Homo sapiens: one gene and its partners. The protein of the gene in region 2 interacts with the protein of the main gene of each other region in a pairwise test. Each region holds a gene or a part of one and is shown on either strand. Other genes may lie near its edges. The genes, in order: LTA4H, TMEM62 and ZNF287.

What was found.
Region 1: the proteins of TMEM62 (region 2) and LTA4H interact in a two-hybrid assay, tested with the Homo sapiens proteins (one large-scale study listed by BioGRID and IntAct).
Region 3: the proteins of TMEM62 (region 2) and ZNF287 interact in a two-hybrid assay, tested with the Homo sapiens proteins (one large-scale study listed by IntAct).

The regions. Positions count from the first base shown.
Region 1 is NC_000012.12:96,000,253-96,002,420, forward strand, and holds the end of LTA4H (leukotriene A-4 hydrolase), read right to left. Parts: intron 855-2,168; coding exon 737-854; 3' UTR 501-736; downstream 1-500. UniProt on the Homo sapiens protein: Bifunctional zinc metalloenzyme that comprises both epoxide hydrolase (EH) and aminopeptidase activities. Acts as an epoxide hydrolase to catalyze the conversion of LTA4 to the pro-inflammatory mediator leukotriene B4 (LTB4).
Region 2 is NC_000015.10:43,150,363-43,154,106, forward strand, and holds part of TMEM62 (transmembrane protein 62), read left to right. Parts: intron 1-1,427; coding exon 1,428-1,583; intron 1,584-3,545; coding exon of another isoform or gene 3,546-3,639; exon of another isoform or gene 3,640-3,744.
Region 3 is NC_000017.11:16,562,584-16,566,327, forward strand, and holds part of ZNF287 (zinc finger protein 287), read right to left. Parts: intron 1,243-3,744; coding exon 1,116-1,242; intron 650-1,115; coding exon 563-649; intron 1-562. UniProt on the Homo sapiens protein: May be involved in transcriptional regulation.

The DNA of each region.
Region 1 (2,168 bases), on a different chromosome or scaffold from region 2:
TCCACCAGGTAGGTGGTGTGCAAATACAACTAAGCATTCATGTTTAAGGTTTTTTTTTAATTTTTTATTTTTCGAGGCAGAGTCTCCATTGCCCAGGCTGGAGTGCAATGGCGCCATCTCGGCTCACTACAACCCCTGCCTCCCAGATTAAAGTGCTTATCCTCCCTCAGCCTCCTGAGTAGCTGGAATTACAGTCGTGCCTCCACGCCCAGCTAATTTTTGTATTTTTAGTAGAGACGGGGTTTCACCATGTTGGCCAGGCTGGTCTCAAACTCCTGACCTCAGGTGATTCACCCGCCTTGGCCTCCCAAAGTGCTGGGATTACAGGCATGAACCACTGCGCCCGGACTTATGTTTAAGGTTATTTAAAAAGCAAAGCAAAATCCTAACCATGTTGAATTTTTGAATCTGCAGCAGATTCAAATTAATGAATTTAAATCATATATCAGGTAAAATACTACCTTGACATATTTTGTGATCATACTGAGAGAAAATTAATATAAAGCTAATTCAAAATTTTTTAATTTGTAAATCAAAAGATTAAACCTTGTTAAAATTTACAAAGAATATGCCACTATAAGAAGAAGTAGCTCAACTTTATTTCAGTAAAATCACCAACAAAACAATAAAAAGCCAAAACTAAAAAGACAGTTTTAATTGTGAGCTGAAGTTTTATATTTCTTTACGAATTCCATTTAAAAAAGAGAAATCTCTAAAATCATCAATACGCAGGTCTTTAATCCACTTTTAAGTCTTTCCCCACCAGCATTGCAGTCACGGGATGCATGCTTGCTTTGTGCTCTTGGTAGGTTCGGACAGCTTGATCATGGGATTTGTCAAAGGCAGCAAGATCCCTGCCAAAAAAGAAAAAATTGAAAAGAAAGAAAGGCGAGAAGGAGACAGAGGAGGAGAAAGGGAGGGAGAGAAGAAAGAAAGGAGGGAAGGGGTTCAGAGGAAAGGAAAAAGGAAGGAGAAAGAGAATAAGAACACAAGTCAATACCCAAGATTAAATTAAAGGATGTCAGCAGGGGTGACAGCCAGCATCACCCAAATAAGGCACCAGTCCCAGCCAATCAGATGGGTATGGTCCTGCCACAGGGTCCCAGAGACCTCCTTCTGTACCAGAGACTGGCCTTTATACTGGCAGATCAGACATTTTGCAGCAAGTTACAGGGAAGGGCTAGAGTGGCTGGGACCCGTGGCTATTTACCAAGCAGCATGGAAGGATTTTATTATTTGAACAGAGTCCTCTCATCTCCTGGCTAAATATCAGCCCTGTATGTGAGAGTGAGCCTCAAAGCCTTTCTTTTTAAAAACTGCTTTTAAAAAAAATTTTTTAATCAAGATTTTAAGAGTATGAAAACACTAAAATTTATATAGAATTTCTGAAAACTTCAAATAATTGAGAATAAAAGTCCTGACCACAGTGAAATAATAAATACATAATAAATAATACACGAAATAAATAATAAATACACTAAATAAAAAGGACCTACCATACAAAAGGTAGGATTAGTCATTTTTAATGTAACTACTATAAACATCATAAAACAGAAATACTTATTTTTCCCACAAAAGGTATACTCTTATTTATTTTATTCATTTTTTTTTTTTGAGACAGAGTCTCGCACTGTCACCCGGGCTGGAGGAGCTGGAGAGCAATGGCGCAATCTCAGCTCACTGCAACCTCTGCCTCCCGGGTTCAAGCGATTCTCCTGCCTCAGCCTCCCAAGTAGCTAGGATTACAGGTGCCTACCACCACACCTGGCTAATTTTTTGTATTTTTAGTACAGACAGGGTTTCACTATGTTAGCCAGGCTGGTCTCAAACTCCTGACCTCGTGATCTGCCTGCCTTGGCCTCCCAAAGTGCTGGGATTACAGGCGTGAGCCACCGCGCCCGGCCCAAGTATACTCTTATTTAAAAACCTATTTAAAGTATACTTTACTCAATTCAAAGCTAGATGGGTTTTAATTAGGGAAAGCATATAAAATATACTTAAAACTTAATTTTGTGGTCACATCAAAAAAGAGATAATGACTTATTTTGCCAAGTTTTATGATATTATATGGCCATCACTTTTGATGGCCAAAACTGCAATTACTTTTGCACCCACCTAAATACTTGTGAAGTAAATGAAAAGCAAACAAAAGTAATCATGGATATTTA
Region 2 (3,744 bases):
CTCTAGTTACAAGTTGTGATGTTAATTATGAAGGCATTTCCTTTCTCTCTCCACCAGTTTTCCTGTGTCCAACCCTGGGGTTTTATTTGGAGCGTACTCCAGATAAAAGGACCTAAACTTTACCTGCCCTTATAAACACTTAAATTGTGTTAGTTACAATAGAATAATTTTTAAAAACAGTATATTGGAAATATTAGGCTAGGCCTTGTTGTAGATGCAGATAAATCCAGAAATATCAGTGGCTTAACACAAATGTTTTTCATTTGTATAAATTCAATATGAGTCAGAACAACTCTTATCCATGGGATGAGTCAGTAATTCAGACTTCCTCCATCTTAAAATTCCTATTTCGACATGTCGATTCCAGGGCAGGGAAGAGAGCAAGGAGAACTCACACCCACTCTTAAGTACTTTGGACCACAGGCATGATATGTGTCACTTCTCTTCACAGCCCATTGGCCAAAACTAGTCACATGGTCCCAACCTGATACCAGGAGACTGGGAAATTCAGGGGAATGTGTAGAGAATTTCGTGAGCACTATTGTTTCTGCCATAGTGAATCATTTCTTTTTTTAGTTCTAAAAGTTAGAAAATATAAAACTTTGGTTATTCTTTAATGAATATTTTATACCTTTTGTTATTGCATTTGGAAAATGAAAACAACTTTAATTTCTTTGAAATTATAGAAATAAATGTTTAATGCTAGGCATGGTGGCTTACGCCTATAATCCCAGCACTTTGGGAAGCCAAGGTGAGGGGGATCACCTGCGGTCAGGAGTTCGAGACCAGCCTGGCCAACATGGTGAAACCCTATCTCTGCTAAAAATAGCCAGGTGTGGTGGCGGGCACCTGTAATCCCAGCTACTTGGGAGGCTGAGGCAGAGGTTGCAGTGAGCCAAGACTGCGCCACTGCACTCCAGCCTGGGTGACGGAGTGAGACTCCATCTCAAAAATAAGAAAAAAAAAAAAAAAAAAGAAAGAAAGGTTTAAAAGAAGCATGAAAGATTTCTAATTTTGTTCATATCAACCATTTTAATATTTTATGTAGCATTGTTGATGGGATGAAGAATGTCAAGTATTAGGGTTATAATAAATATTTTAGGTTCAAAATTGTCTTAAAGTACAGGGATAAGATGAGTTACTTCAACAAGTATTTATTTAAAAATTAAAGAGTACATGCCGTGTACCAGGTGTTGTTCAAGAGCACAGTTGAATCCATTGCCCAGTCAGAGGCAGTTATGTGACAAATGTGAAGGATAAAGTGATGGGGTAAGGGAAGAAAGAAAGAAAATATTACTTAATCTGTATTCAAATTAATCATGTAAAAAAGTCCTAGTTATGTATTTTTATATTTGTTCTGTATATTACCTTCATGACCTCTTACAATGTGAAGTGACTAAATTACCTTATCATTATCTGGTCTTTAGGTACCGGATTTTTGCTTTTGATCACGACCTCTTTAGCTTTGCAGATTTGATCTTTGGGAAGTGGCCTGTGGTTCTTATCACCAATCCTAAATCACTCCTTTATAGTTGTGGTGAACATGAACCACTAGAAAGACTTCTTCACTCAACACACATCAGGTATGTAGCAATTTTTTAGAATTTACTTTCAGTTTGATAATGAAGGAGAATAAGTCATTGTGATTGCATTCCCATGTGAAAGCTATGAGATGCCCCATTTTAGTTTTCTCAACAACCTAAACATTATATAAAGATAGATTGCTTACTGTTTTGTTTCCATTAAGTTAAAAAGCATATCATTTTTTTAAGCTGATGAAATTTTAAAAACCATTCAGAAATCTATAATTCTACCATTATTATTTTTGTTTTATTTTATTCCAGCCTTTTTATTTGGACGCTTTTACATTGCTATAAGCATAATGTACATATTCCTTTATAGTCTACTTTTTAAAATTTGCATTATATATCAAATTTTTTTTCATTTGTTATGTAGCCTTCTAAGAAAGCAAAAGCTATATATATAATCCTTATGGAATTGAAAATTCAGTTGGCAAATGAATTTGTTTTGTTTTGTTTTGTTTTGATTTTCGACAGAGTCTTGCTTTGTTGCCCGGGCTGGAGTGCAGTGGCCTGATCTTGGCTCACTGCAACCACTGCCTCCCGAGTTCAAGCTTTTCTCATGCCTCAGCCTCTGGAGTAGCTGAGATTACAGATGTGTGCCACCACGCCTGGCTAATTTTTGTATTTTTAGTAGAGAGAGGGTTTCACCGCGTTGGCCAGGCTGGTCTCGAACTCCTGACCTCAAGGGATCCGCCCTCCTACGCCTCCCCAAGTGCTGGGATTACAGGCTTGAACCACCATGCCTGGCCATGAATTTGATTATATAGATTAATAGAATCCAAATGGGACATTAACATTCTTTTTGCAAAGAGATATATAACTTGTTTCAAATGTAAGAGCACTTTTTAAAATATACTTTTACAATTTATTTTGAAAAGTAATACAATAGAACAACCTTTGGAAAATAGGGTAATGGGATTTTAAGTATGTTTTTCTCCACTTCTAATAGAACTATTATTAGCACTTCTGAGTATTTCTTCTCAGGCATTCTCTCTTAAGATGTTTTTATATAATTATAATCATAAGGCACAGTCTATTCTAATTCCTGATTTGTTTTCTTTCAGCACAAAGAATGTACCACAGTTTTTCTAACCATTTTCATATCTCATTGGTGAACTTTTAAGGTTTTTCTTATTTGTGGATGAATATCTGGTACATATATATTCTTCCTTCACTTGAATAATTTCTTTAAGAAAGAGTTCTAGAAGTGGGATTCTAGGTGAAAGAATTTGAATTCTTTTATGACTGTTGATAAAAATTGCTCAATCCCTTTTTTTTTGGAGCTAAAATCACTATTTTTAATCATGGTAAGCATGATTAAACAAAGTACACATGGCATAAAATGTACCATTTTAACCATTTTCAAGTGTACAGTTCAGTAGCATTAAGTTTGCTTCAAGTTTACATTGTTTTGCAACCATCACCATTATCCATTTCCAGAACATTTATCATTTTCTAAAACTGAAACTTTTACCCATTAAACAATAACTTCCTGTTCTTCCCTCTCCCACAGCCCCTGGCAACCACCAATCTACTTTCTGTCTCTATGAATTTGACTACTCTAGCTAACTCATATAAGTGGAACCATTCAATATTTATACTTTTGTGACTGGCTTATTTTCATTTAACATGATGTCTTCAAGGTTTATACATGTTGTGGCATATGTCAGAATTTCCTTCCTTTTAAAGGCTGAATAATGTTCCATTGTACATTGTGTGTGTGTGTGTGTGTGTGTGTGTGTATATACACACATATGTATACACACATACACACATACCACATTTTGTTTATGTGTTCAATGGACACTTGGGTTGCTTCTAACTTTTGGCTATATTGAATAACGCTTCTATGAATATGAGTGTACAGATAACGGTTCAAGTCCCTGCTGTCACTTCTTTTAGATATATATCCAGAAGTGGAATTGCTGGATCATATGGTAATTATCTGTTTAATTTTTTAAGGAGCTGCCATACTGTTTTCCATGGTGGCTGCACCATTTTACATTCCCACCAGCAGTGTATCAGGTATCCAATTACTTTCAACAACAGATGCTAATTTATCATATTACCAAGCAATATGAATGCCAAATTCACAATACTCTTATTATTATTGGATATTATGCTTTAAAAAGTATTTACTAATTAACTTGTAAAAAATGGT
Region 3 (3,744 bases), on a different chromosome or scaffold from region 2:
TGTAGGAACTGGGTGAATGTGGTATTCAGGTGGACATTTATATATATTTATATATTTTTTTTGCTTTATATACTTTTAAACATTTTGAATCTTGTGAATATATTATCTTTTTAAATAATTAGAAAATAAAAAAGAAAGGGATGATTTAGAAAAGTGAAGGCAGGGGGATGTAGGGATTTGTCAGTGAACAGAATAAAAGAAACTCAAAAAGAAGAAGGTTTAACATTTAAATTTTTAGGGGGCATTCATACATGTTTAAATCTAGAGGAAGGGGAAAGTGGCACAATGAAAGCCCTAGACAAAGCTCTTAAGAGATGGGACCTAGAGGTCATGTAGAAGGATAAAATGAGAAGAGACACGGGAAAAGTGTGTTAACAGTGATGTTAGGAAGCTCTTCCTGAAGAGGCCTCTGTAAGGAAGCAATGCCAAACAGCTCAGTGTTCTTCACAGGCTAGAATGCCTTTGCAAAAAGTGACCTGGTCATATTTAAAATGCATTTCTCACCACATTTAGGATATAGATTCTTAAATACAAAGAAGCTCATGCGCTTTTTGTTTCTCACCTGGACTAGGGCCTTCTAAAATTTCTTTTATCACCATCCATGGTTCTTCCAATATGGGAATCACAGTTGGTCTGTACACTGTAAGTCCTGTTCAGGAGGAATATAAAGAATTTTATCCTGGAGATAAATGGTTGCTCAAAGTTTTATTACCAGACTTCTACCTATCTGGGAGAACAGACCTCTGTAGGAAAACAATAGTTCATGGACATGATCTAATAAGAGAATTAGGCTGTTGATTGTTATCCTTTCAGAGACAGGATAACAATTTCCTGCCACTGAAGAGGATATGTGAAGGAAGAAACATTCCCTTAGAGTAGCAAAGGCTGGGCAAGGCAGCATCAGGTGGCAGCACTATGAAGCTGTGCATCAGTTGCCAATGTTCTCTCACTTAAGAACCTTTCATTTGGAAAACGGGAGTAAAACAGTCACTTTCGTGCTTGAATGAGATAAGAACATTTATTTCTGGACCCCATTTTTAGCCAAGCATGTCTGAGGACCAACCCATTTTTAATGGGAACAGGCTCGGAGGAGGAGGGATGCAGATGATCCTTACCCAGAGAAACCATGTTCCAATAGTTCTGTAACGTCACAGTCTTGTATAATTCCTTCTGCACAGGACGCATTAACTCCCAGTCCTCCTGGGTGATGTCTACAGCCACATCTTTGAATGTCATCGATTCCTAAAATATCAAATGTAACTTAACTCAGTTCAAGAACTAATGGCAAAGGGGACACTGATAACACTGGGTATATGTATGGTGGGGGACTGTCACAGAATTTTAAGCTTTAGTAGGATCCTAGAAGTTGTCTAGTCAAAACCCTCCCCTGACATATGGACAGCCCTACAGCATCTCTCCATGACCCTAAACGGAAGTTTGAAAATAGATCAGAATTTATTTTCACTTAGCACTCATGCATGCATTGGTGGCAGCTCCATTTTAAACAGAAAAGGTTTATCATTACTATTTTTAAAAGAGACAGAGTCTCGCTCTGTTGCCTGTGCTGGACTAGTGCATGCATTGCTGGCAGCTCCATTTTTAAAAGGAAAAGGTTTATTATCATTATTTTTAAAAGAGACAGGGTCTTGCCTGGTCACCTGGACTGGAGTGCGATGGTACAATCATTGTTCACTGCAGCCTCAAACTCCTGGGCAGAAGTGATCCTCTCACCTCACCCTCCTGAGTAGCTAGGACTACAGGCACACACCACCACATCTGGCTAATTTTTAATTTTTTTTTGTAGAGATGGGGTTTTGCTATGCCACCCAGGCTGGTCTCAAACTCCTGAACTCAAGCGATCCTTCACCTCAGCTCCCCAAAGTGTTGGGATTACAGGAGTGATCCACCAGGCCTGACTTGAGTTTTAAATTTTAAACACAGATGACACAGTTGAATGGTTTTGCTTTTCAAGCTGTGCTTTAAGAATAAATCCAACATGTTATAATTAAAATGTTAAGATATTTTTATGTGTTCTATGGTTAAATTCAGTCTTTCTTTTTAAAAATATAACAGATACCAATAATCACAGTGTTGAACTGCTGCACTGTTAAATACATTTCACAATCTGGTAAGGTTAGTGCTTTTCTTGTTTGCTCCTTTTGTTAAAAATATAGTATTATCTTACATGTTTCTTTTTTCTCTTTTTTTATTTGAGAAAGAGTCTTGCTCTGTCGCCCAGGCTGGAGTGCAGTGGCCTCCTGAGTAGCTGGGATTACAGGTGCACGCCACCATGCCCAGCTAATTTTTGTATTTTTAGTAGAGACAGGGTTTTGCCATGTTGGCCAGGCTGGTCTCCAAACTCCTGACCTCAGGTGATGCAGCTGCCTTGGCCTCCCAAAGTGATAGGATGACAGGTGTGAGCCACTGCGCCTGGCCACGTGTTTATTTTTTCATATAATTGTCAGTATCTTTAAAAAAGTCATATTGGAGGCCAGGCGCAGTGGCTCATACCTGTAATCCCAGCACTTTGGGAAGCCAAGGCAGGAGGATCACTTTGAGGCCAGAAGTTTAAGACCAGCCTGGGCACATAGTGAGATCCCATCTCTTAAAAAATCTTTTCTTTTAAATCATACTGGGATTTAAAAATTGTATTAAGTTTATAACTTAGGGAGAACTGATGACTTTATAATATTCAAGGTTTCTTTCATGTTCTACAAAATATTAGACATGAAAGTACTGCAATATTTATATTATGCTTAGTTTTAGATATTTTAAATTTTTTTCGGGGGTGTGATACTGGAGGCATTTTTTTCATTTTATCATTTATCTCATTTTTATATGTATATATGTAGATATATATATAAGTATATATATGTAAGTGATTGATTTTTGCATGTCATTTTCTGTAGTCATTTTATCCAATTTTTCTATTAGTGTTTCTAACACTTTTTCCCTTGATTTTGTTAGGCTTTCCAGGTAAATGTTCACACTATCAATGAATAATCATTTTAACTTGGTTACCAAAAGCTTTCCAATTTCAGAAAAACCAGTTATATTTTTACAGTAAATCTTTCTCTTAAGGTATCTTGAGTTACTATTCTTTAAAATAATATAGACTCATGGCCGGGCGCGGTGGCTCACACATGTAATCCCAGCACTTTGGGAGGCCAACACGGGTGGATCACCTGAGGTCAGGAGTTCAAGACCAGCATGAGCAACATGGCGAAACCCTGTCTCTACTAAAAATACAAAAATTAGCCAGGCATGGTGGCATGCACCTGTAACCCCAGCTACTCCAGAGGCTGTGGCATGAGAATCACTTGAACCCAGGAGGTGGAGGCTGCCGTGGACCAAGATCGCACCACTGCACTCCAGCCTGGGCAACAGAGTGCGACTCTGTCTCAAAAAATATATATAAATTCATGACCAACAGTAATATGACAGAATGCATGGCCTTTAACTACTTGTTAATGAGGAAAAATAATAGTAACAATCATCTATTAATTGCTTAACTGTAATCCAGGCTAACTACAAGTCTCATAATATTTAATACTCACAACCTAAGAGGTAAATTCTATTTATGAGAGTAGAATAACTCAGGCTAAGAGAGGTTAAGTATCTTGTCCCAAATTGCAGTTCCAATGGTAGAGCCGGGAAACAAAACCTAAATCCATCTGGCTGTGGAGGTCAATCTCGTATTCTCTATGTGATATTGCTGACAAAGTCAAAGTAAGGAAAGACATA